Linked DNA regions of Homo sapiens: all the other regions are linked to region 2. The links come from fine-mapping of genetic effects on gene expression. A gene starts in region 2. Each other region holds a variant in brackets. All regions are shown on one strand. Distances are from middle to middle.

Region 1 (5,000 bases), 67 kb before region 2:
TTTAAATCACAAAATAAATATATTTGTTTGGTATTTTGATAACCCTCTCCCCCCAGAGTGAATTCAGCCTTATGAGCAAATATAGTTAATTGAAACCTCTTAGTAGTGAAGCTGATCTTTGTGATTACCTAAATTTAATTCATTCACATATGAGCCAAAATCAAATTTTCATGTAGGTCAATTTTCTGGAAAGTTTTTGAAGTTAAACACATTTAGAGATGTTTAATTTAATGCTCTTCCTATATCTATTATATTGTGGAGGGAGTGATTTAAAACAAAGAAGCAAAATGCTTCCTGCTGGAAAATAAAGATGTTTTCATTGCAAAATTAATATAACCTTTGTGCTATGCTGCTGCTTAAAAAAGGATGTCTATTAATTAATCATTTTTAAATCTATCATAAGAAGTAACTGTATTCATTATTCTGTCACTTTCTAACACTAAAGGAAGAAGAACAGCTGTTGTCTGGCCTCTAACTAACTGCAATGGGGTCTTTCAGAATAATACAGAAAGAACATTAGAACAGCATGAGCAAGATACACAATTCAAAATTAATCGAAAATTGGTGATCTGAGAACTGGAGATGTTCTCATGACATGTAAATATTTGTTCAGCAGCTAAAGTAATAGCAATGCATTAAACCAATAGAATTACTTTTGACACCTAACAGAAATGTTAATTGATCATCAATCTTTAGCTCGTAATAAAAGGGCTGAACTTGCAGTTCTGAAAGTATAGCCAGAAAAATTATGTGAGAGACATAAATGTTATAAAAAAGACAAACTGCTCCAAGCTAAATTGCTTTAAATTACATTGACCTCATCACTGTACCTTTGAAACCTGTCTCTAATTGAGAGCAATTGATTTACCCTTCCAACTTTCCTTTAAAGCCTATCAGATCCCAAATTCTAAATGTTAAGAACCCTTTGCCAAAGTATTCTGCAATTGAGCTTTCCTTTGAGATTCTTAAGTGATGACTAAGGCACGAGCCAGGTAGAAAAACAGTACTCAGTGAATTTAAACCTTAGAAATTAAGGTGACATCTTTTGTCTCCCCCTGGAGAAGGTGATAAAGTGAAAGAAATTTTTAGCATAAGACCATTGTAATTACACAAAAACATGAAAGATAATAGACACCAAAATGAGCTGTGAGAGGGACAAACATGCCAAAATTTCTAACACCTACCCACACCCAGAATAAAAATGTCAAGTTCCTGGAAATTAAGGAGGATTTGTGGGGAGGATTTTTGGAAAGAGTTGTGCTGTGTGTTGAGCATGATCCCACCACCCTCTATCCACGGGAGAACAGAGGGGTCATTGCCTGCTCTGCTGCTCAGCTGAGCTCTGGCTTGAGGGTCACTGAGACCATCAGAGAGCTTAAGAGGTGTTTCCTGCAGGAGGGGGACACAGTAGGTTGTTGTCTGCCTTACAACTAATAAATCCAAAGTATGAGAGAGAGATTGGCTAAAGTGGTATCAGAAGAAGAAATAACCACATATAAGAATTATGTGCCCTTTTTTCCAAAGACAGATCAAAGGCTCCCAAATCCCAGGGCCCAAATGTGCAACTCTTAAAAGGAATATTAGCCTAGGATCCTTTTAAAAGGGACCCTGCTGGGCCGGGCACGGTGTTTCACACCTGTAATCTCAGCACTTTGGGAGGCCAAGGCAGGTGGATCACGAGGTCAAGAGATTGAGACCATCCTGGCCAACATGGTGAAACCCCGTCTCTACTAAAAATACAAAAATTAGCTGGGTGTGGTGGCACGCTCCTGTAGTCCCAGCTACTCAGAAGGCTGAGGTAGGAGAATCACTTGAACCCGGGAGGCAGAGGTTGCAGTGAGCCTAGATTGCACCACTGCACTCCAGCCTGGTGACAAAGTGAGACTCCATCTCAAAAAAAAAAAAAAAAAAAGCGGGGGGACCCTGCTCAAGAGGGTTCCTGATAAAAGACTAGGGGAGTCACTGGCTACCAAAGGAAGTTGTACTGATGGGGCCCAGAAGTGATGACTCCAAAGATCTCAGATGATTTTAAACATATGCATATGACAGTATCAGTTGAGTAATAATTCCCTGCATCCTTTTCACTCCTTCATCTCCATGTCCCAGATACTAAGGGATCAGAAACCTCAGTAAGCAAGTAGAGTAAAATCACCCACTGGAGAACAGAGCATTGATCAGACTTTCTTCCCAGCCTCTCTTGCAAATTCTCTCCTGCACCAGGTCTCAGGAGGATGAGAGGAGCAGATTTAATATTGCAACAAGTTTGGAATTTTTATTGTTCTTTGAACCAAAAGATTTAAACTACTAAATCAAGACTTAAAGCTACATGGCAACTTTCTGTCACCTAAGAG[A/G]TTAGGGAGGCCATTCTGCAAGGGAAAACTACCCATACTGAACAAATTTTAAAGGGACAGTGGGAAAAAGAAGTAAGATTGCTTTAGTAATAATATCCCATGAATCCTAATTATTTAACATATGAGCTACATAATTATTTTTAAGATTATTTCATTCATTTTATATTCAGATTTTTATACCATGAATATACATAGAAATATAAAATTTCTAAGAATGAAATAAAAAGATTTTTAAATGTCTTGCTAATCACAGTAGCCTCACATTATGATTAACAGATGTAAATCCATATTTCAAATACTCTTCTTCAAACTTTTGAAATTTGGGAGCCTACTATTGTTAAATGTGATTATATCATCACTGTTTTCATCGCATTAGGGGCTGACAAGGGTTCAGACTAGAAGGAGCACAGGGGTTGGCTCTGGCACTTTCCTTTCCTTCACTTGTGCTTTCATTATTATTAACAGCATTCACTATGAACCATGGTTTCTTATAATCTTTTTAAGGCGCTTGGACTTTTTGTGATGGTTAGCCTAATTAAAGCTAGAAAGTACAGTCCGTAAATCTGTGTAACTAGGCTCTCATAAACTGCCATGTACTATAATACACTGCAAGTAAAGTGAACGATGTGCCTGTGTCAAGGAGTCCCCTTGAGGAACTCCTTCTCTTCCCTCAGGCTTGCCCACATCCCAGAAGAGGGCTTAGTGAGAAACTTCAGAAGGCAACGACTCAAAGCCCCTCACTTTTATGGACCCCTTCCACAGCTTGTTTGGGACCACTGTTTCTTTCCATTCCACTTTCCCTTGTATCAAACATCCCCTTAGGACAGGTAGGGTTGGAATAGCAGCGGGCATCTTTTTGGATCTAATTAGAAGAGGGATACAGTTAGTTGGGTTCACAATGCAAATAAAGCATTTGGAATTTGTATGATGACCTGATGAAAAAACATGCCACAATGTGCATTTTATTAATTGTTTTTTATAAATAAAGCAGATAGAGGCAGCTACAGTCTGGATTAAAAGTAGAGAAAGGCCAGGCCTCATGCCTGTAATCCCATCACTTAGTGGGGGCAAGGTGGGCAGAGAGCTTGAGCAGCCCAGAAGTTTGAGACCAGCCTGAGCAACATGGCGAAACCCCATTTCTACAAAAAAATACAATAATTAGCCAGGCATGGCTGTATGCACCTGTGGTCCCAGCTACTGGTGAGGCTAAGATGGATTGGTAAATTGAGCCCAGGAGGCTGAGGCTGCAGTGAGCTGTGATGGAGACGTTGCACTCCAGCCTGGGTGGCAAAGCAAGGCCTTGTTTTTCATTCATTCTTTTATAAATAAATAAGAAATTATTATATCCAATATAATGTTTGATAATATCATACAACATAGCATCAAGAGTATGCTATGACCATTTGCAGCAGAACAATCCTACACCTTTAAAGTCTACCTGATTTGGACATTTTTTAAAAAAGGATGAAGGGTTTTCTGAATGGCTGACTTATTTTTTCTATACATGAGGAAAGAACCAAATGAGCTCCAAAGTATAAGTATACTCACATGCCTTCCTCAGAATAGATCAAATAATTATAACAGGTTAGCCTTGGGTGCAAGAATTTCAAGACAAGTCAAAATATCATATTTTACCCAATCTCAGGTAACATGTATTTCTTGGGTACTTAACTATGTTGTCAGACACTATATTGAACTTTTAGCATGTATTATCTCATTGAATCCTCACATGTAATTCATCTGGAGCTGTTAAAGCTAACATTTGCTCCCCTATAGTCTGATGAAAGACTATTTTTCTACCTTCCTTATTAGTCTCTTCACATTTGGTTTCTTTTTCATCTGCAGTTCATTATTGATTGCAAGCTAAATCGTCAAAGCTAACACAATTTCCAAATAATGCTTCCCAGCCAGCAAGAATCATGCAAAATGAAAAGCAGTGATTTGACATGAAGAGGACAATTTTTCTCACAGCTCGAACATAAATTGTCACCATTCATGAACTCCAGTAGACTGCTCTTCCTTTATGATTTGTTCTTATTCATGCCCCAGGTGAACAGGAATAAAGCCCAGGGCACTGAGCCAGTGTGCTGAACCCAAGACAGGTGGCACAATAAGATACTAGCCTTTAAAATATGCATTCGGTTGGAACCTGCAATTTCATCCACTTCTAAAAATTTTTCCCAGGAATATAGTCAGATACCAACTAAGATGTATCAATGATGATGACCAATCCAGTGTTGTTTACAACAATAAAAATTATGAGCAAACTAAAGGACCAAGAGTAGAAAACTGACTAAGGACATTGTGATAATTAATAAGATAAATTACTATTTAGCCATTAAATATATATATATATACACATTTTAAAGTATTTTTAACAATGTATAAAATGCTAAAGATATATTGCTAAGCAGCAAACACTATGCATCAAGTTATACCATACATTAACATACACATACAAAATTTTATATAAAAATAATTTATACATAATTTATAATATATACTTTTTTATATAAATCCTATATATAAGATTTTTAAATATGAAAACAATTCAGAATTTTTTTCTTTTTTGACATTTTCTGTTTTTTACCTTGACTGTATAATTTTTAAAAGCAAAAAGATCACTTATGATATAGACTTCAATTCAAC
Region 2 (6,200 bases):
CAATGTGAGATCAGACTAATACACAATGTAACAATAGAGAAAAGGTAACTATAAAAATAATGTAAACAGTTGTAACTTGGCCACTGTAGAAATCATTAGTGCTATAATAATATATTGAAATACTTCCGATTATCTTCCTTCTAAGCACACAGTAGGATTCCATTTCCCCAGGCTTTTGGAGTTAGGTGTGGCCATGGAACTTGCTTTAGTCCATAAATATGAGTCAAAGTAACATATGTCACATCAGAATGGAATCCTTTAAGAACATAATGACTATTTTCCCTTCTCCCTTTATGTTGCCTAGAACCATTACAAATGGTGAAGGCCTCATTAGCCTGGTCTCTAACATGAACATAAGCATGACAAGAAACAAATCTCTGTTGTTTTAAGCCACAGAGATTTTGGATCTTCTGTAACTGCAACACAACTTCATCCATCCTGACTGTGACACTTTTAGAATTTGTCAACAAAATTTTATACTCCCCTCAAGACGGGCTAATTTCCCTCCCCTTGAATGTGAGCTGGCATTAATAACTAACTTCTAACAAGTGATGGTGTGTAGGCCACAATAAAAAGTGTTGGAGCTTCCTCTCTTGAGTCACTCACTCTGAGGAAAGCCAGCTGCCACGAGAATCATGAGGACAGTCAAGCAGCCCTATGGAGAGATTCACATGCTGAGGAATTGAGGCTTCCTGCCAACAATGAGCATTAACTTGTCAGGTCTGTGAATGAGCCACCTTGAAAGAGAATCCTGCCGCACCAGCCCCAGTCAAGCCTTCAGATGGCTGCAATGCCAGTCAACATCCTGACTGCAACCTCACAAGATACACTGAGCCAGTTAAGCTGCTCTTAGATTCCTGACCAACAAAAACTATTTGAGATAGTAAGTGCTTATTTTTTTTTAAGCTACTAGGCTTTAGGCTAATTTGATATACAGCAATCGATAACTAATACATTGGTTGATACAAAAATATATCAAATACTGAAAATAAAGGATAGGGAAAAATAAGAACTAATTTCTTTGCTTTGAACTTTGAATGATTTGGAAAACATTGTAATGGCACTAACTGTAAGTTACTCAATTATATTCTCAAGTCTTGAGGCAAAGGCCATGTCTGCTCAATAAACATTTGCTGGAGTCTAGTAAATGTTTAACAACTGAACAAGATGTTCAGAACTGACAAGAATATTTTAATATAGATAGGAGGGAACGTCCATCTCCTCTCTTTTGGACACTATGCTTTTTTTTTAACACTAGATCATACTGCAATACACTATACTTTTATTACTGCAGCAAAACCAATTTTTACAGCAGAAGTATCACGCTGCTAGTATACACTGGAAGTTTAGATTTGCTAAGTGTTTTAAGATAGAAATAAGTCCACAGGTTATTTCCTCACTATATTTTCTCCTATTCATCTCAGCATTCATATGACAGATGTGCCATTCTATGTTAAATTTTTCTGATGACTACCAGTTTCAACACTAAACCACAAAAGGAAAAAAGATATAGTGCAGGGAAAAGCATTGTTGAAGAATAAATATTCTATAATGAACTGTTCACTCCATGTATCAAAAGCAGAACTGAAATGTTACCTAGCCATCATTTGATCAGTTCTAACAGGTTCACCTTGCATTCTATCTTTAAAATCCTTAGGCTGGGCGCAGTGGCTTGCACCTGCAATCCTAGCACTTTGGGAGGCCGAGGAAAGAGGATTACTTGAGCCCAGGAGCACAGGAGATCAGCCTGAGGGCAATATAGTGAGGGCTTGTCTTTCAAAAAAAAAAAACCTTAAAAAAAAAGTAGCCAAGTGGTGGCACACGCCTAGCAGGAGGCTCGCTTGAGCCTAGGAGGTGGAGGTTGCACTGAGCCAAGATCATGCCACTGCACTCCAGGCTAGGCAACAGAGCAAGAATGTTTCTAAATAAATAAATACATAAAATAAAATCCTTAAGCCAATCTTCATTTACCAACCAATTTTTAATTCTTTTATTTGTTACCACATTGTCTCTCCTGAATATCCAAAGGCTCAAAGCCTTGGTTTGAATGCAGCTAAATTCATTGGGTTTGATCTCAAGTCAAACTTAGAAATACTGTCATCTCAGCCACAAATTTCACACTAAAGTAGATAGAAACCACTACTAAATCACTACTTTGTCTTAAAATGAAAGTATAATAGACTGTAAGGTTATAATTGCTTTTTTAAGTTAAACTTTGTTTTACATTTACAGAAAATTTGCAAAAATGGAGTCCCCACACCCCCTTCATCCAATTTCCCCTACCATTAATATCTTACAATACCATGGTATATCTGTCACAATAAAGAAATCGGTATTGGCACTATTACCTAAATTCCACACTTTGTTCAGATTCGCTAGTTTTCCATTAATGTCCTTTTTCTGCTGGAGATCCCAGCCAGGATACCACATTACATTTAATCATTATGCATCATTTTCTCTGGCATAATAGTTTCTCAGACTTTTCTTGTTTTTGAGTAGTGATTAGGTAATTTGTAAAATGCTAACCAGCGATCTCAGCTCACCATAACTTCCGCCTCTCGGGCTCAAGAGATTCTCCCACCTCAACCTCCCGAGTAGCCGGGACTACAGGCGTTCACCACCACACCAGGCTAATTTTTGTATTTTTAGTAGAAACGGGGTTTCGCCATGTTAGCCAGGCTGGTCTCCAACTCCTAACCTCAAGTGATCCGCCCGCCTCGGCCTCCCAAAGTGCTGGGATCACAGACGTGAGCCACCGCGTTCGGCCCCTTTTTCTAATATTGTCTAAAATAAGTATCCTAAACAGGAAATACCAAAAAAATCCCCCTCGCTTTCGTGACCTACACCGGTAAGCGTCAGGATCTTTCGCTATGCGAGAACCTTTTGGCTCTCGTATGTGCGCATGCGTCTGGATCCGGAGCCAGGTGACCCGCTCAGACGTGGACCATGTGCGGGGGAGGGGGGAAAGGAGCCGCGAAGGGGGTGGTAGACGGAACAGGTGGAGCCGCGGCGGGGCTAGGCGGGGCGGGGAGTGAAACAGCATAGGCTCCGCCCCTCGCGGCGCTTCCCCCGGAATAGCGTCATCAGTTCTATAAGAGAGCGTGTGCCGAAGGCCTCGGCCTTTCACATTCGGGAAGCGTCGGGATTAGGTGAAAGTACGTAGTTGTCTTTCGTAAGTTAAAATGATAATTGGGCCGAAACTTACTGCCTTACCTAAAAGGCAGCGCAGTCAGGATATTGGTAGGTCGGGGGCGGCTTTGGAAACCCTTAAGTTTACAAGCATGCGCGGACTTGAGTGCTCATTAGGTCGCCGGGCGTCCACGTGCAGCCCTGGACCCTGAACCCCGGCGTGCGTGGGCCGTGGGCCCTCGGGGAAAGGTTCCGTGCACTCGGGGACTCCGGTGAAGCCTGTTCAGCCGTCTGTGTCATGTGGCCATCTTGAGTCTACTCTGTCGCTCTTGTGCCCTAGCACCCCGAGAACCGTCAGTTTGAGCCAGATGGTGAGTAATAACCTGTAGCAGTTTGGTTGCTGGTTAATTCTGGATTGTGAATCTCCATGTATCTTTGGGACCTGTCAGCCGTGGCAGTCTCCCTTCCTAGCCATGGAAGAGCATATCCTTGTTTATTGGCAAAGCTGTCACCATTTAATTGGTATCAGATTCTGACTTGCACAAGTAACATTCACTGTTAAAAACCTAGAGGGTGCCGGGTTATTGGGCAAAATTTCTAAACCGTTGTTCAATGTTTCTAGGAAGCTGAGCTGAACACATTACGATGGATGATGGAAACATAAGGTACATTTCTTTTTTGATATTTCTGAGTTAATCTGAAACGCCTTAGCGGCAGGACGTTGGAAAGCTAAAGTTGGCCCGTTTTGCTGGCTTTTGTAGTTTGAGTTAACAACCAACTGAATTAGCTGATAAGATCTCAAAACAGTGAGGTAAGTACACAGCTCGGAGTTTTATAATGCTTTTTTTCTCTTGCAGACTATCAAGAAATCCAAGTGGTAATGGGCGAAGTTTATTCAGCATCCGGCAATGGACTTATCGTAGTTGGGGAAACGGGTGTTCCGAATAATATCCTGGAAGTTATCAGGACACCTATTTTAAATATAGGCCTGAATTTTGTAAAGTAATATTTAAGGTGGTCCGTGATAATTAAATAAAATGCTTAATTCATGTGGCTACTCATTGTTCCTTGACTGAGTGATTAATAGACGGAAAGGTAGTTAATAGCATAATACCTCCTATTTAGTGTTACACGCTCATGTGGAAGTAGTGTGAGTACAGTTCTAAGGTAATTGCAGCCTTTGTGAAAAATGTAAAATATAAAAATTACCAGGCTACCCCCAAGGGAGACAGCAGACTCTTTTTAAACCATACAAAAATTTAAGGCAGTTATACAAGGTGGAAAATTATGTATTTATTTACACAAATATGCACAGAACACTTGTATCTTTCAAAAGTCACACTTAAGACATAGTAAAAGCATGTTGTATGAACCATGTATTCTTAAGGATTGAGCAAACTGCAGGCTGCTTGCTGCCTTTTAGGTTTGCTAGTCCCTGATCTACTTGAAACAGATGTTGCTTGCCCCAACACTAGTTTAATTATAAGGGCAGCCTGTGAGAAAGTTTCAATAGACATTTTTCTCACCTATATTGCACGTTTTTCTGAAGCCCTTGTGCAAGTGTGTGTGCCATGTGTAGTTCTATTTACATATAAACGCTACTTTAAAAGTTTATCAAAATCATGAGTTTTTACAAAAGTTTTTAATGCTCTTCTGCATTATATGCAGCATTGCAAATCTGCAAAGTAGTAAAACTATAAAGCACCTTTAGGTTTGCACCAGTTATTACAGAAATGGGGATTTGTGAAAAGGATGTAATTTGATGTAGAAGGGCAAAGTCCTTTAATGACTGGCATTCAAGAGGATTACTTAAAACAATTTGTAAGTTCATGCTAACCTCTTCCCTATATTTATACTACTGGGACCTGGGGAAGGATCCATGACATGGAAGTATCTTGAGTGTGCCTTTTAAATTTGAGCATTACTGCTAAGAATGTTCTGTAAAGGTGCATAGTTAAGCAGCTATCCCTTAACTCTTGGAGAAATAGCCATAGGGAAACCAATCATTTAGGTAGGAGAACCATGGGGAAAAAAATCAGCATTTTTTCTGGAGTTTGGAATCAGTTTCACCAACTGGTCTCACTTTGAGGCAAGCCTGTTTTCCCCCATTTGAAAACAAGGGCTACTACCATAAGATTTACTGGCCTTTTGCAAATTGTCAGTGATGTGCAAAGCTGCCTAATGCAGTGCCTGGCATATGTTATAACTGCTGTATGTATTAGAACTTTTCAATGTGTAGGCCAGGAAAGCATTTTGACTAGTATATTTTAAGATTGGATTGTATCAGGTTGGGCTTGGGAAAACCTGCAGGTATAAGTCAGTTACAGGGAAGTGTCAGTGGGTGGCACTCTTACATCATGGTCGGGGAACGTGGACTATGATGAGGTGCTTGTTAAAAGCAAATATAGTAGATATGTTAATGTGTTGGATAAAATAGGTTGTATGTCCAGCTGGCATTTAGTTACCAGAAATCCTTTCAAATTTTGCTAGTTTATACGCTGTAGGTAGAAAGTATTTTTATCTTATGGTTTCTGTAGCACTTGGTACTCAACAAGGATACTTGTTTCCAAATATCAGATCACTTTGAGAATATATTGTGACAGGCAGATGTCCTTGAGGCTTTACTACTCCTATTCAGGCCTAAAAGTTTATAGTGGAATTCTTTAACCACTGATTTCCTCACTTGACAAAGGCTACAGAGAATATGAAGATTTCTTGTCAAGTCTTTTGAAAAGACCTAAGCATAAATATGCCACTCATGAGTGTAGTAAAGGGTACCGCATTTATGTCAAATGTGGGTATTTAATATGATTTCAGACACCACTGATTCAATTAAAAGGGGTTCTCAGTTCAAATGTAAAAATGATCTTTTGTAAAATCAGCATAGAATGATTTTGAGAAATAGGTAGGGGATAGATGAGGCTTAGAATAAGTCACTCCAGTGAAATTAGGGTAGAAAATGTTCATTTAAGGATTATCACTTCCACTACACTGAGGCCTCTGAAAATGTTCACAAATTTCTCAAAAGCAGCAGGGGGTACACAATTTTTTACCACAACACAAAGCAAAAA
Region 3 (6,200 bases), 41 kb after region 2:
ATCTGGCATTTAACTGCCTTTATAATTAATGAACCTTACTTAAATCCCAATTGTCGACAAACCACGTATGTATTCAGCTCAGTCCAGCCATCATCACAGACAGTTCCCCACTGGCCTCTGTAATATACCTCCAAGCGACCCTCATGGCTGCCTTTCCCACCTGCAAGTCTGATGACCCCATCTGTGATAAAGAGGAGACACAGAGACTAAGCAAATCAACTTTCAAAAAAAGGCAAAACAACATTTGTATTTCACAAGAAATATCACCATATTCAGGCCTCACTCTAGGCCTTTTGCTAAACTTACATTACATCTGTGCTAAATGACCCTCTGAGGTTATCATGTTGTTTCTGAAGTTTGACGTAACACATTTCTGTCCTAATAAAATATTCTTTCCAGCTGGGTGTGGTGGCTCACTCCTGTAATCCCAGCATTTCGGGAGGCTGAGGCAGGTGGATCACCTGAGGTCAGGAGTTCGAGATCAGCCTGGCCAACATGGTGAAACCCTGTCTCTACTAAAAATACAAAAATTAGCTGAGCATGGTGGCGCATGCCTGTAATCCCAGCTACTTGGGAGGCTGAGGCGGGAAAATCGCTTCAGCCCAGGAGGCAGAGGTTACAGTGAGCTGAAATCGCACCACTGCCCTCCAGTCTGGGCAACAAAGCGAGACTCCGTCTCACGGAAAAAAAAAAAAATATATATATATATATATATCTTTCCTTTTTATTGGTACCCCTATTCTCTATGTAGAAAAATATATCCTGATATAATTCCAAAGTATCTATTTAGACTTCTCTAGATTAAACAACATTTGGGAAATTTCATATAACTTTAGTCTCAAGTCAGAGCAATACATGTCATTTAAATTTAAAAAGAAAATACAGTAACTTGGAAATAGCTCAGAATTTTAACTGCAAATGAAAAAAATACTGAAATAGGATGACAGAAAAAAACTATTCTGGATAAAAGACAGTCTGTCATGTCAATGCATATATTATTTGTTAGGCATTCATGAATTATAAAAACTGGAAGATATGTCTCGCCTTTGTTCTTTTATTGATAATACAGATCTGAATTTGAATCTTATTAACTCAAATAATAATTAATTTGCCTATAATTCTATAAAGAGCTTCTAAGCAGATAAACAGTATAATAAATTTAATTCCAAAAAAAGTAGATTTAAAAGCCATTTCCAACCAAAATAATCCAAAAACTCTCAATGAAACATATAAATAATCTTGGGTAAGGGTCATACTTTTCATAAATCTCAGGGATCTTTTAAAGTAAAGGTCTCTGAGCAACAAACCTTTTATTAATATAATATTTTACTGTCTGCAAAGCATTATGACATGCATTATCTCATCTGAGCATCACAGCAATGTTACAAGACTATCCTCATTTGAAGGAGGGGAAAATGGCAGTTCAAGAAAATGAAGTGCTCTGGCTAAAAATCTGGCGTAAATACATTTCTATGGTGTATTAATGTGTTAATCTGCTAATAAAAACAACTGCATGTATAGAAGTATGTGAAGAGAATGATATAAATCTGGTATTTCATAGATTCTAACAAGTTATTGATTTTCACTAAAGAAATATGTAAACAAAACATTTTTTTCTTCAAGTTCTTTTTACTAAATGGTTTCTGATGAGTCAGTTTCTCTTGCCTTTTCCATTTCCTTCTTCTTCTCCCTAAACATGTAAGTACATACACGCACACCAGTTTGTACTCACATATGCCCTTCTTACAACACATGACACATTTTGACAGGCATGCTGTCATTTGGAATAGTCTGAAAATTGTGCATAGCAAAGTTAACTTGGTTTCTTTCACAGTGTGCTTTAATCAACAATTGCATCAATACCAGCTCTAAACACATTCTGAGTCAAGAAACGTTAATAGATGAATGGACTAAAGATGGAATTATTACACCTAATATCTGGAATGTATCACTGCACACTGATTTTGACTATTGGGTACTATATACTGCAACAAAGTCCTATTTTCTGATCTAGCTTTACAAGACTATATAGCCTTAAATTGAAAAATTCAGGAATAACTATGAATAAAAAGATGGTACTTTAATATACGGTTTGCATTCTTTTTGTTTGTTTTATTTGGTGTATTTATTTGTATGCTCATTTGGTAATGTTGAAATTAAGGAGAAGGGAAGCTGTGGCAGGCCGACATGGTACTGGGGGCAAGAACTGGTACACTAATGGAGTGAAATCCTTACCTGTTAGAGGGGTACAGGACACTCCAGCATCTTCTTTATGGCCACAGTTATGCTCTCCCCAGGAGCTCTTTGGACACTGCTCAATTGAAAGCTCATTCCCAGTGCAGCGTACTTCATCCAACATAACTGGGCCAGACCCTTCCCCAAAATATGCCTGATGCCATGCTTTGGCAATGCCACTGAACAAATAAAAGAATGTAAGGATTCTGGATTAGATACCAAAGATTGGTCTTTTATTTTTTTTTTGTCCCTAGT[A/G]AAAGCATTATTATTAATCCCCACTTATTAATTCACTTCACAGGTCATGCATGACTTTCTGTATTTCTTTTTTGTATATTTGTTTGTTGTCCTTTATATTTTCAGCCATTACCCATGTTTCAAAGTTAGGTACTGCCCAATATTTAACCTCCTTTTCTTCATTAGTAATGGAACTTCAGATTTTTAGGAGGACAATGGCTATCCAAAATTAAAATCACATTTTGGCCTCCCCTCCTTCTTGATGACTAAGTTTGTTTGTTTGTGGTAAAATAAACATAACATAAAGTTTACCATTTAAAACATTTTTGGTTTATAGTGCATTAAGCACCTTCACATTATTGTACAATATCACTACCATCCATCTCCAGAACTTTTTCATCATCCCCAAATAAAATTGTGCTCCTATTTTAGACGCCTAAGTTTTGTTTTTCTTTTTGTTATGTTTGAGTCATAGTCTCACTCTGTCACCCAGGCTGGAGTGGTGTGGCATGACCATAGCTTACTGCAACCTTTAACTCCTAGGCTTGAGCAATCCTCTCACCACAGACTTTTGAGTTGCTAGGAATACAGGTATATGCCACCACACCTGGCTAATTTTCTTTTTATTTTTTATTTTGAAGTGGTGGGGTTTCAGTATGTTACCCAGGCTGGTCTTGAAATCCTGGCCTCAAGCAATCTTCCTGCTTCAGCCTCCAAAAGTGCTGGGATTCCAGGTGTGAACCACCGCACCCTGCCATAAGTTCTGACCAGTGATATTTAGGTGGAAGTACCATGTATTACTTGTAGGAAGTATCTTCCTTCTCCTGACTGCAAGGATGGCTGGAGCCTAATAAGTTATCTTGGGCCATAGGGTCCCATACTAAGGATGACAGAAATGCAAACAAGAGAGATTCGGGGCCTTAATAATTGCGGAACCACCAAACTACTCTTGAGCTGGCTACCTCTAGTCTCTTTTCCTAAACATAAAATACACTCGACTCTAAACTTGTTTAAACTGCTGTTATTTTCAGTTCTTTGTTACTCACAGCCAAATCTACTTCTTTTTTAATGTTGTTGTTATTTTGAGACAGGGTCTCACTCTGTTGCCCAGGCTGGAGTGCAGCAGCGTGATCATGGCTTAAGGCAGTCTTGACCTCCTGGGCTCCAGTGATCCTCCCACCTCAGCCTCCTCAGTATCTGGGACTATAAGTGCATACCACCGTGCCAGTGAATGTTTTATTTTTTGTAGAGATGGAGTCTCATTATGTTGCCCAGCCTGGTCTTGAACTCCTGCACTCAAGCAATCTTCCCACCTCAACCTCCCAAAAGTGCTGGGATTACAAGTACGAGCCACCATGCCTGACAGCCAAGTCTATTTCTAACAAAAACATCTCTTTACTGAAGTTTATTTGTAGTTAATTTACTTCTCCCACAATTCAAAGCAATAGCATATTCTTAGAACCCCAGATTTAAGTGAAGATCACAAACCTGTCAAAGTGATTAATAATTTCAGATATTGCATTTTCAGTCCCTTTTAGGCTTTTAATTTTTAGACTATAGCATTTATATTTTTAGTTTGTTTTTCAATGATACTGCATCTACTCCCCCATTATTTTAGCTGCTCTTTTCTTATAACATTATAACTTGAGAATTTACAACAAAAATATATTGAAGAAAAAAAAGTGTGCTAAATGGCTGTAATACCCCACTAATGGTAAAGTCTTAGATACCAATTTTGCGGCTAAAAAGGAGCCTGATTCACTATTTCTACTAGATAACATGGAAGTTTCTTTTAAAAGAACATGCCTAAGAAAACAAAAATATCTAAAAGTTAACACCTATTTTAATATCATTAGAGGGCCAGACACAGTGGCTCACGCCTGTAATCCCAGCACTTTGGGAAGCCAAGGTGGGTGGACTACTTGAGCTCAGGAGTTTGAGATCAACCTGGGCAACAGGGCAAAACCCCATCTGTACAAAAACATACAAAAATTAGCCAGGTGTGGTGGCACACACCTGTGGTCCCAGCTACTCGGGAGGCCAAGGTGGGAGGATTGCTGGAACCCAGGAAGTCAAGGCTGCAATGACCCGTGATCATGCCACTGCACTCCAGCCTGGGTGACACAGAGAAATCCTGTCTCAAAATAATAATAATAATAACAACAATATCATTAAAGCAAATGCTTAGGGAATGCTCCGTCATCACCTGACTCACTTTGAGTTTAAAATTCAAAGAGTGTGCCAAACTCAAAATTTGAGTTTAAAATTCAAGAGGAAGGATAAAAGAATATTATAGGAGGTATAGAGGAAGCTGAGGAAAAGAAGATGGCTTAAGCAAAATATTTTCATGGAGTTAACATTTTAAAATTTAGAATCCTGGCACTATCTGATACTTGTAACACAGTGGACTCTGAGCAATCTGCCCCAACAAAAATTAAAGACTAATATCTAGAACTAATAGGACAAATGTGAGGAAAACATTTGGAATTCTAACACATATAATATTGGAGTCCTAACACAAAGGAATCCTAACACAAATGATATTGTCAAAATGACAATTTTGTGAGTGAATTTGTTTGTTTTGCTAAGGGAAATGTAATGACAAAACAGAAAGTCATGTCTACTCTGGAAAGAGTCAATAAATGCTTAATTAATAGGATTGTTCTAAATAAAGTTTTCAGCTGTTTCAAAGTATGTCTATATGCCTAGAGAAGAGTGCACTAATCATGTATAAATATTTGTATATTACTGACCATGTCAAAAAGCTTATTTTTTCCAAGCTCAATCTTTGAAGTGGAGAAGTATATGTGGACACAGACTCTCAGCTTCCAATCTGGGCTGTACCTTCAACAAGCTGGGCTACCTTGGGGAAGTTACTAAAACCTTCCAGGCTTAGGATGCAAAGCTGAACACAGGGATGATAACGGCTAACTTGCAGGGTTGTAGGAATTAAACTGATGCAAAGTAGGAGCTCAATAAATGCTGGTTCCCTTCCCTCTTCTGGCACGTTAAGGAATCCCCACGTACCCCTGACAGTTGATAAATAACATATTTTTCACTGCTAAGCCATTTATCTAAAGACCATTTGGTATTTAGTTTAAACAAACACCAAGGTTGTTACTTTCCTTCATCCCCAAAAAGTAAAGTTGGGGGAATGGTAAGGAAGGGAGAATCAATCAATATCTTAACATTTTCTGGTTTTAATGTTGTTTCATTTATTTATTTATTTTAAAGTAAATTTCAAAGAAATATTTATGGAAGTAATTTATGGCCTATAGGAGACTGAACAAATGCATGTATGTGTTATTTTTTATTATAGATTATAAGGTAACGGCCCAGAAGACTATTAAGTAAGCTCTGACCTGCATCACTAAACTTCAGATTTTCCTGTGGTAGAGATATATCTAATGAGAGGCAAACATTTTCAAATATTTGAATGCACATAAAGTATTTTATTTAAAAAGGCTGTTGTGCCAAAATAAAACGTTTTGTGCAATGAAAGCACTGATGTTCCTAGAAAAATATGTTTTAAATCAAAATGATCTTGCAATAGTAGTGTACAAGGCTATGAAAAAAATTCAACTGTTTTAAAGATTACTTATAGTAGAAAAAATATCCTCTCCCAGAGAAAACATGTTCATAAAACACTTACTATAGGCTGGGCGCCGTGGCTCACAGCTGTAATCCCCACACTTTGGGAGGCCGAGGCAGGTGGATCACCTGAGGTCAGG
Region 4 (5,000 bases), 170 kb before region 2:
TAAAATCATTCTAGTAATGAAGGGTTTAGTGAAAAGGATATGACCTAAGAATATTGCTGGGTACTTAAGCTTTTTACAAGGGTTAGGCCAGTAACAAATATATTTTTAAAAGGTGGGAATAATGGATGAATGTATAATAATGTTCTCATAAACATCTGCAAAATCTGGTTTACAAAAACAACATAAAAGATGACAAATATCACTGTTTATCTTAAGTATATAAAATATCATCTAGAAATAATTTTCCCCTCTTTACCATATATAGGCATAATTAGTATCTGCCATCTGTTTCAATGTATCTTTTATGTGTTTAGTGTTTATTTCTAGAATATCAAATAAATAGGTAAAATGGAAATTCAAATCTGCAAATTCAGGGCTAATTTAGTAACTTAAATCATTGTATTCTAGTTGACTAAGAGGTTAGTTCGCAGGAACTTTATTTAGCTTCTAAGGCCTAAGAAGAAGACAGGTTTCTTATATATAGTTTTTCTTATCAAGTTTTGTAAATGTACATTAAAAATGCAATCAAGGATCACAAAGCAAAGTTCGAATTCCAATTAAGTTTGAACAAAAAGAAAGGCAAAAAGAAGGTTCATTTTACCAAATTGTAAGACTTAAAGCACTGAACACAAAAAAAATATGTTCAAATAGATTTCGAATCTATATTTTAACCACTGAAAGAAGAAAAATAAGAGACTGAAATGAAGTGAGTAAAATGGAAAAAGAAGAAAGATATGATCTAAGTGGAAGGAAAGATAGGAAGGGTGGGCTAGAATGTTCAACTGGGGAACAACAGAATTGAGAGAGGAAGAAGGGGAGAAGAAAGAAAGGGAAGATATTATAATTGTCAGCATTATATATATATATTTATACACAAAATGTGTGTGTATTATAATTGTCAGCAGTACAAATATACAGACACTTGTATATGTATACTATATATCTTACACCTAGGTATATCCTTCCCCACACCAGGGTCCAGCATCTGACCTAGAAGTCCCATTTGTAACTTCATCATGTCCAGCTGGCTGGATTCCTCCTCCCCCATCCAAACCGTGCCCCACCTTGTAAGGACCTAACCTGTCCCTGATGACATTGCTGTCAGTTCATTCTTTTGCTCCCATAGTTAGGTGTAGAGATCCACCAACAGGCCTGTCTTCTATTTCTGAGTGTCATCAGGACGCACATATTACATGGTTCAGCTGTGCACACCAAAAAGCTTGCTTATGTTAAGAGAGTAGTGATACCAAAAGAATTAGATAGCTAAATTTCAAAAACTTACCATTGGCTAGATGAGTCTAAATTTGAACCCAGAAGTTCTCTACCTCTGCTTTTAAAATCAGGAAGAATCTCTTGCATTCAGATAAAGCATACAATCATGGGGTAGTCAATGAATAAAAAACTCTATCTGCTTATGATCCAAAAAAGTTGGGACCATAAACATGATGAGGCAGACCTTCCAGATGTCAGCTTTATAATTAAGAAAATAAGATTTAGTTGTGGGCCCAACTGTATTAAGGAAAGGGAGAAAGAAGATAAGGTGTGATAGAGTAGAAGGAATGCCTAATTTGGATCTATATCCGTAAGCTAGGATACCACTAATTTCATCTATGAAAGATCATTTACAAATCTAACAGCATTACTTTCTGCCTAGTTGAAGTGAACACTCAACTACCGTGTGTGTGTATGTGTATGTGAGAGAGAGACAGAGACAGAGAAGGAGACAGAGAGAGGGAGTATAAGAATCAGACTTAAAGATTGAGAAAGAAAAAAGAAGAAAGAAAAGTACATTAAATACTCAGCATGGTAAATATTTTATAGGATATAACAATTAAAACTCTGATTCAAAATAGCTTTACTTATCAGAAGTAGGATATTTTATTAGTCTGTTTTTTAATGAAAGGGCAAATTAGAGATCTACTTTACTATGATATCTCATTTTGAACAACAATCATTATCTTTTGGGAATCTCAGATTTTGATTTTGAAAACCAAAGACTTGTCTGAGAAA[T/C]AATCTGTTTCTTTCAACATACGTTCTTGCATAGCTTCACTAAAAATGAGTGCCCTTCTTTTGGCAATTGGTGATCTATATGCCTGAAGGGTAAATTGGATATATTTTATGTACTAGATCGTAGTTCTTTTGATACCTACAGAATAAACTCTTTTCATTTAACTTCCTTTTTCCAACTGACACTTTTTGCTGATTTATTGCAAGCTAAAGGATAAATAAATGTATGTGTTTCATGTAAACTCAAAAGTATCTCTCTAGTTTTAAAGTGATAAAGAAACTATTTTCCACCATTTAATTCTCACATGTATAAGGAACTGGTTTTATCCTCTGAATGCAAAAAGGATATATCTTTTGGAAACTTTTTAATGCCATTCTTTACCTGATACATTTTTTAAATTATGTATTTCAGGCCCTGCTTGATACTCAGAATCTTTTGCGTGCACAAATCACAAATTTTACATTCAACCTGGGATTTTCAGGGAAATTTTACCATACAGGTAAGAAAAAGGGATTAACTGTTCTCATTAAGGCTTCTCTGATCACTCTATTTAAAATTGCACACTTTTCCTGCCCACACTGTCCTACATTCCCTATGTTCCTCCCCAGCATTTTATCATTCAATTCTATTTAACATGCTATTTTTTAATTTTTGTAAAATATTAATGGTTTGAAAGTTTATGGAACTATCTGATGGCCTTTCATTTTTATTGAATTATAATTTACATATATAGAAGTACATAAATAGTAAATGTGATATTCAGTGAATTTTCAACGTGTACACAGCTGTGTAAAGAACAGGCAGATCAAGAAAGAGAACACTTCCAAAATCTCCACTTCTTGTGCCCCTCACAATAACTAACTTCTCTCAAAGAAGAGTAGTATTCTGACTTCTAATATCATGAATTAGTTTTGCTTGGCTTTGAGTGGTATGTAAAAGGAATCATACAGTAAAGATTCATCTGTATCCAGCTCATTTTGTACAATGTTATTTTTGTTTCAGAAATATTACTGTCTATAGGTTATAATTCTTTCCTTTTCCTTGCTGTACAGTATTCCATTGTCTGAACATACAAAATTTACTTGTCTATTCCATTAAGCTGTAGATGGTTGGGTGTTTCCAGACTTTGAGTTTTTCTGAATAGAAATGTTCATAACTTCCTGTTACGAACATTTTTATACCTGTCCTTCAGAGGACTTGAGTATTCTTTTCTGTTAATCATCAACTAGGAATGGAATTGCTAGTTATGTGGCACACTTATAATTAATTTTAGTAGAAAATGTCAGTTTTTCAAAATGGTTGTACCTGTTTATATTCCCAACAGTATGAGTGTTCCTGTTGCTCTGTATGCTTGCCAGTATTTGATATTGTTTGTCTTTTTAATTTTAGCTTTTCTGGTGAACATGTAGAGATATCATATTAGGGTTTTAATGTACATTTCTCTGAAGAGCAGTAAATGATCTTTGTTCGTATGTTGGCTGGCTATTTGGATATCCTCTCTTGAGGAGTATCTGGGTTTTCTGCTTTTACTTAATGATTTGTAGAAATTCTTTCCTTGAAGTTTACAGTTCCATGTGTTCCAAGTACTTTCTCCTGCTGTCTGGCTGTCTCTTAATTTTCCTTATGGCGTTTTTAATGAACAAAAATACTTAATTTTAGGCCGTTCAATTTATCATTTTTTTCTTTAATGGTCATTCTTTTCTATCTTATTTAAGAAATCTTTGCATACTACAAGAACATGAATTTTTTTTCTTTTTGAGACAGGATCTTGCTCTGTTGCCCAGGATAGAGTGCAGTGGTGCAAACACAACTCACTGCAGCCTCAACCTCCTAGGCTTAAGAAATCCTCCCACCTCAGCCTTTTGAGTAGCTGGGACTACAGGCCCATGCCACCATGACTGGCAAATTTTTCTTGTAGAGAAGGGGTCTCACTATGTTGCCTAGGCTGGCAATGTATAAATCTGTGATACATCTGGAATTGATTTTTGTGCATATATCAGATAGGGGTCTTTTTTTCATAAAAATATCTAATTGGTTAGCCAGACATGGTGACATGTGCCTGTAGTCCCAGCTACTCAGGAGACTTAGATGGGAGGATAACTTGAGCTCAGGAGGTCTAGGCTGCAGTAAACTATGTTCATGCCACTGCGCTCCAGTCTAAGCAACAGAGCAAGAATCTGTCTCTTAAAAAAAAATCTAATTGGCTGGGTGTGGTGGCTCATGCCTGTAATCCCAGCACTTTGGGAGGCCGAGGCGGGTGGATCGCGAGGTCAGGAGATCGAGATCATCCTGGCTAACACAGTGAAAACCTGTCTCTACTAAAAATACAAAACATTAGCCAGGCATCGTGGCAGGCCCCTGTAGTCCCAGCTACTAGGGAGGCTGAGGCAGGAGAATGGCGTGAACCCAGCAGGCGGAGCTTGCAGTGAGCCGAGATTGCGCCACTGCACTCCAGCCTGGGCTACAGAGCGAGACTCCATCTCAAAATAATAATAATAATAATAATCATCATCATCATCATCTAATTAGCACCCAGTATTGAAAAGACCATCCTTTCCCACTGCTTCATAGTGTCATTATTATCATAAATTATATGGCCATGTAACTGTGGACTCTCATTCTGAATTTCCCTATTAAATGTGAAAAGAAATCACTCTAAATATTGAGAATAATTAAAAAGTTTTTTCACAATCATAATTAAAATGAGTAAAGATATTTTGACTTGCCTCAGGATAGATGAACACAATTTCATGATTGAAAGCATTACTCTGTATTTTTAGAAGTTAAAAAAACTGATTACATGTATTGGTATACTCATATAATGGAATACTCTGCAGTCATTAAAAAGAGATAATTTTAAATATAAACCATATAGAAAAAGCTCTCAAGATACACTGAAAAATCAGTGTACAGTACAGTGATTAGAACATGCTCCCATTTGTATAAAAATAAAGAAGATAAAAGCTATACAAAAGTCAAGGTATAGTACAGT
Region 5 (5,000 bases), 28 kb before region 2:
AGGCGGGTGGATCACCTGAGGTCAGGAGTTCGAGACCAGCCTAACCAATATGGTGGAACCCCATCTCTACTAAAAATACAAAAATTAGCCAGGCGTGGTGGCGCACACCTGTAACCCCAGCAACTCGGGAGGCTGAGGCAGGAGAATTGCTTGAATCCAGCAGGTTGAGGTTGCAGTGAGCCAAGATCACACCACTTCACTCCAGCCTGGGCGAAAGAGCAAAACTCCATCTCAAAAAAAAGAAAAAAAAAAGTCACTGTTTAGAGGTTGAATCATTGGAGAATCTTGGTGCCCCTGCCCACAAGTCTTTTACAGTTATTTCTAAATATCCCAGATGATATTCCACACAAGCTTTAGAACCATTCTTACCCATTCTTGTTTTACTCTTTAAATCAACAAAATGTTATTGAATAATTATGTGCATGACTCTGGAGACACAATGATGAACAAAGTATCCCCACCTCCAGGTTAGGGTAGCCCTAGAAGCGGACACTAAACAATATATGAACACTTCCTCCAAAATGTTCACTGCCTGAAGGCCTTGAAAGGAGGGCCCCAGCCATGACAATGGTTGCCAGTGCTTACATAAAAAGATAGTTTCCTTGCTGTTCCACCAGACTTCAGAGAAACACTGCTGCTTTCTGAATAGATGTGGGGAGATTTTCTCCATCTTCTATTACACTTCTTCATTTGGGCTCTGAAATAGTATTACTTGTGTCCCAAACTCATAAGACCTTCAATGAACAGCAGTCCCTTCATCTATGATGGTTCTCCATGAAGGACCAGACCCAGTCCCTCAGGCCATTGGGTAAATAAACATGCTTTCCCTTCTAGCTTCTCCTTCTCATTTTCATCCTGACACACTTATACCATTGCCTATGAGGGTATGCACACAGATGCCTAGGCTAGGTGCCAGCTACACACACAGTTTTTCTCAGTGAAGCCCAGCATGACACCTGCTGCATAAGATCTAATTAATTAGCCGACATAAAAGAAAAACCTATTTTTCTTTTGATTCTTAATTTTAGCATGTGTGGAGTTCAGTGCTTCTTAGAAAAACTTTCTCTCAGAAGACTACTCATTTTAATACACAGCATATGTATGTTCCAGTTACGTTATCTACAGCAAGGTATATTAGCAAAAAGTAATAGCTGCTCTGGATTCTGAATTTTGATCACTTGAATACTTAAAATGAGTCAGAATTCAATTTTGGAAAATTGCTGATAGCAAAATGTTAATGAAAAATATTACATCAATCACAGACTTCCAGAAATGTTGTATTAAAGTTTCCCAAAGGCTTTCATGTACAGATTATTTAAATAATACAGTCTTTATTAATGATCTCTTTGTAATTCTGAATATAGCACTAATTTATTCAGTTGCCTTACCGATTCAAACAAGACCATAAACAGCATGAAAACATAAAATGTTGTGTCCTGATCTGACACAATTGCTTTAATAATGATGAGAAACAGGCTTTACGTAAATGGAAAGTGATTATTCTCTCTAATACACAAAGTCATACAGAGGCAGAAATCTAGGTTTGTATTCTTTTCATAGGGCTAGAGTTATAAATTCTACAAGATTAACTACATATAGACTACAGCCCCACATACACACACACACACACACACACACACACACATTAGATCACACTATCATTTTAAGTGCTTTGTTAATGTATAATTTACATATAATCACCCATTGTAATTGTGCAGTTCAATGAATACAAATATATACAGTTGTACGTACCACCAGAATCAAGATATAGAACAAAAAGGTATAATCCAAAAAATTTAATCATGCTCCGCTGTAGTCAACACTTTCTACTCACCTTGACCCCTAGGAATCATCAAGCTACTTTCTTTCACTTAGCATAATGATTCTGAGTTTCCTCTATGTTGCTACATCTATCAGGAGTCAATTCTTTTTTATTGTTATATATTACTCCATTTTATGGATGTACCACAATTTGTTTATCCTTTCACCAGTTGATGGACATGAGTAATTTGTATTTTTTGGCTATCACGAACAAAGCTACTGTGAACAGTTGTGTGGACATACATTTGCATTGCATTCGAGTAAAAACCTAGAAATGGGGTTGGTGGGTCATATAGTAGTTATGTATTTTAATTTCTAAGAAACTTTACAAAGAGGCTGTAATATTTTTAATTTCTACCAACAATTCTATTTGTTCCATGTCTTTGCCAACATGGGATATTTTTAAAATCAGTCATTCTACTGAGTGTACAGTGCTATTTCATTTGTAATTTTAATTTGTATTTCCTTAATGATGAATGATGTTCAGCAAATTTTCATTTGTTCATTGACCATTCATATGTGTTCTTTGGTGAAGTGTCTGTTCCAATCTTTTTTTTTTTTTTGAGATGGAGTTTTGCTCTTGTTGCCCAGGCTGGAGTGCAATGGCACAAACTCGGCTCACCGCAACCTCTGCCCCCCAGGTTCAAGTGATTCTCCTGCCTCAGCCTCCTGAGTAGCTGGGATTACAGGCATGCAGCACCATGCCCGGCTAATTTTGTATCTTTAGTAGAGACAGGGTTTCTCCATGTTGGTCAGGCTGGTCTTGAACTCCCGACCTCAGCTGATCCGCCCACCTCAGCCTCCCAAAGTGCTGAGATTATAGGCGTCAGCCATTGCACCCAGCCTGTTCCAATCTTTTATGCAGTTTTTATTGATATTTTTATCTTTTATAGTGAGTTATATATTCCAAATACAAGTTCTATATTAGATATATTTTTTACAAATGTTTTCTCCCAGTCTGTGGTTTCCCTTTTCATTTTCTTGTGTCTTTATGAGAGCAAAATTTTAAATTTTGATAAATTCAAAATTATCATTATTTTTCCCTTATGGTTCATCCTAAGAAATCTTTGCCTAACCCAAGGTTGCAAAATTTTCTGGTTTTTTTCCCTATGTTTTCTTTCAGAATTTTTATAATTTTAGCTATAAATTTTTTATTTATTTATTTATTTATTTATTTATTATTTTTATTTT[A/AT]TTTTTTTTTTTTTTGAGACGGAGTCTTGCTCTGTCACCCAGGCTGGAGTGCAGTGGCACAATCTCGGCTCACTGCAAGCTCCGCCTCCCGGGTTCACGCCATTCTCCTGCCTCAGCCTCCCAAGTAGCTGGGACTACAGGCGCCTGCCACCACGCCCGGCTAATTTTTTGTATTTTTAGTAGAGATGGGGTTTCACTGTGTTAGCCAGGATGGTCTTGATCTCCTGACCTCGTGATCCGCCTGCCTCGGCCTTATAATTTTAGCTATAAATTTTTAAGTTTTCAGCTTAAATTTTTATAGTTTAGGTTTAGCTCAATAATACATTTCAAGTTAATTTTTACATACAACATGAGGTAAGGGTCAATGTTCAGCTTTTTCATATAGATATCCAATTTTTCTTGTGAAATTTAAAGGACTAATCCTTTCCCACTGACTTACCTTGGCAGCCATTTTTTGAAAATCAGTTGACTGTAGATGTGTAGATTTATTTCTGAACTCTTCATTTTGTTCCATTGATCCATTGGTCCACTGATGCCAACACCATACAATCTTCATTACTGTAGAATTAGAGTAAATCTTGAAATTAAATAGTATGAGATCTCCAAATTTGCTCTTTGTTTTCAAATTGTTTTAGCTTGTCTACTTCCTTTACATTTTTATATGTACTTTAGAATAATTTTCTGTTTCTACTTAAAATATAGTCCACTGGAGTTTTGATAGGAATCATACTGAATCTATAGACAAATTTGGAGAGACTTGGTATTTTAAAAGTATCTAGTCTTCTGATTTATGAGCATGGTATAGCTCCCTTTTTTTCTAAAACTTAACAAAGTTTTGTAGTTTTAAGTGTGCAGCCATTGCACATATTTTTTGTAAACTGTCACCCTAGATATTTCAGGTTTTCACATTATAATTTTAAGCAAAGTGTTGGAAGTAGCATTCCTAGAAGTAGAACAGATTAAAGGCAAAAGAAAAACGTTATCTGAAATAATTCTAATTGAGAAGAAAAATGGCAATATAATTATTGAATAACAAAAGCTATGTAAAGGAATTATCATTGCTATTACATTCACTTTTATATCTGAGCATACAAATTAGTGCTTTATTTACAGTGAATAATAATATAAAACCTACTTGGAGACCAGTAAAAAAGAAAAGGCCCTAAACCGAAAATCAGCAGGCCTAGACTTGAGTCATGACTTGAATATTGAAGAAGTGTATAGTACAAGGTAAATAAACCTTGACAAACATTTTCTCCCTTCTCATTTTGTGTTCAACTAATACTTGGCAAATGTTTACAAGAGCCAAACAGTATGCTAAATGCTATAAAATGGGAAGAATCCTTCACAGCATATCCTTAAGTGTCAGAATGAAACCTCAAATGAGAAAGAGTTATATGAAATATTTTGGTAAGATAAAATGTGTATTTTAATGTGCTATTATTATTTATTATAATTATGGCATAAAAAGTTCATTTAGGCTGGGCACAGTGGCTCACGCCTGTAATCCCAGCACTTTGGGAGGCTGAGACAGGCGGATCACCTGAGGTCAGGAGTTTGAGACCAGCCTGACCAACATGGAGAAACTCCGTCTCTACTAAAAATACAAAAATTAGCTGCGCATGATGGCACATGCCTGTAATTCTAGCTACTCGGGAAGCTGAGGGAGGAGAATCACTTGAACCCGAGAGGTGGAGGTTGCGGCGAGCCGAGATTGCGCCATTGCACTCCAGCCTGGGCAACAAGACCAAGACTCCTTCTCAAAAAAGAGAAAGAAAAAAGAAAAAAATTCATTTGTAGGTGCTATTACTTTAATACAGAGCTCATACCAAAAGAAGAAAGTAGCTCTGAAAAAAATTAAATGGATTATAGCTAGAGAATCCTAAAAGTAATCACTCCATGATACACTGAAACCTTTTCTCTTCTATTACCTTCTAGTTGTATGATACAAGTAGCATCTAAATCCATAGACATGGAAGAAGGCTGAC

Alleles and levels. Positions count from the first base shown, and alleles are read on the strand shown. Sizes are in standard deviations (SD) of each study's normalised expression. Not every link is listed here.
With allele C in place of T in region 4, the expression in prefrontal cortex of the gene that starts at base 3,125 in region 2 is lower (small effect, 0.33 SD a copy in GTEx).

Evidence for each region. PIP is the estimated chance that this variant, and not a neighbour inherited with it, causes the effect. A credible set is the group of variants that fine-mapping cannot tell apart.
Region 1: its variant is the best candidate, but not a certain one, in a credible set for the expression of SNHG8 in esophagus mucosa (GTEx, PIP 0.75).
Region 3: its variant is the best candidate, but not a certain one, in a credible set for the expression of SNHG8 in whole blood (INTERVAL, PIP 0.54).
Region 4: its variant is the best candidate, but not a certain one, in a credible set for the expression of SNHG8 in prefrontal cortex (GTEx, PIP 0.56).
Region 5: its variant is the best candidate, but not a certain one, in a credible set for the expression of SNHG8 in lymphoblastoid cells (GENCORD, PIP 0.57).

What each region holds. Positions count from the first base shown.
Region 1 is chr4:118,208,882-118,213,881 of GRCh38, forward strand. All of the region lies in intron 6 of NDST3 (N-deacetylase and N-sulfotransferase 3), which reads left to right. Among named protein-coding and RNA genes, the nearest start is that of SNHG8, 67 kb to the right of the region's middle. The variant A/G (reference allele first, on the strand shown) is at 2,352.
Region 2 is chr4:118,275,638-118,281,837 of GRCh38, forward strand. It overlaps SNHG8 (small nucleolar RNA host gene 8), which reads left to right and starts at 3,125. Exons shown (of 3, transcript NR_034011.1): 1 at 3,125-3,155; 2 at 3,752-3,794; 3 at 3,987-4,186. It overlaps PRSS12 (serine protease 12), which reads right to left. Exons shown (of 13, transcript NM_003619.4): 13 at 4,401-6,200. SNORA24 (small nucleolar RNA, H/ACA box 24) reads left to right here and starts at 3,553; the gene lies at 3,553-3,683. RefSeq lists an enhancer at 2,653-2,832 and a silencer at 2,903-2,952.
Region 3 is chr4:118,316,143-118,322,342 of GRCh38, forward strand. PRSS12 (serine protease 12) reads right to left here. Exons shown (of 13, transcript NM_003619.4): 5 at 2,236-2,414; 6 at 40-181. Among named protein-coding and RNA genes, the nearest start is that of PRSS12, 34 kb to the right of the region's middle. The variant A/G (reference allele first, on the strand shown) is at 2,491.
Region 4 is chr4:118,102,599-118,107,598 of GRCh38, forward strand. It overlaps NDST3 (N-deacetylase and N-sulfotransferase 3), which reads left to right. Exons shown (of 14, transcript NM_004784.3): 3 at 2,420-2,507. The region is part of intron 2 of LOC107986307 (a long non-coding RNA gene); the gene reads right to left. Among named protein-coding and RNA genes, the nearest start is that of NDST3, 71 kb to the left of the region's middle. The variant T/C (reference allele first, on the strand shown) is at 2,011.
Region 5 is chr4:118,248,118-118,253,117 of GRCh38, forward strand. The region is part of intron 12 of NDST3 (N-deacetylase and N-sulfotransferase 3); the gene reads left to right. LOC105377392 (a long non-coding RNA gene) reads right to left here. Exons shown (of 3, transcript XR_939113.3): 3 at 3,330-3,570. Among named protein-coding and RNA genes, the nearest start is that of SNHG8, 28 kb to the right of the region's middle. The variant A/AT (reference allele first, on the strand shown) is at 3,013.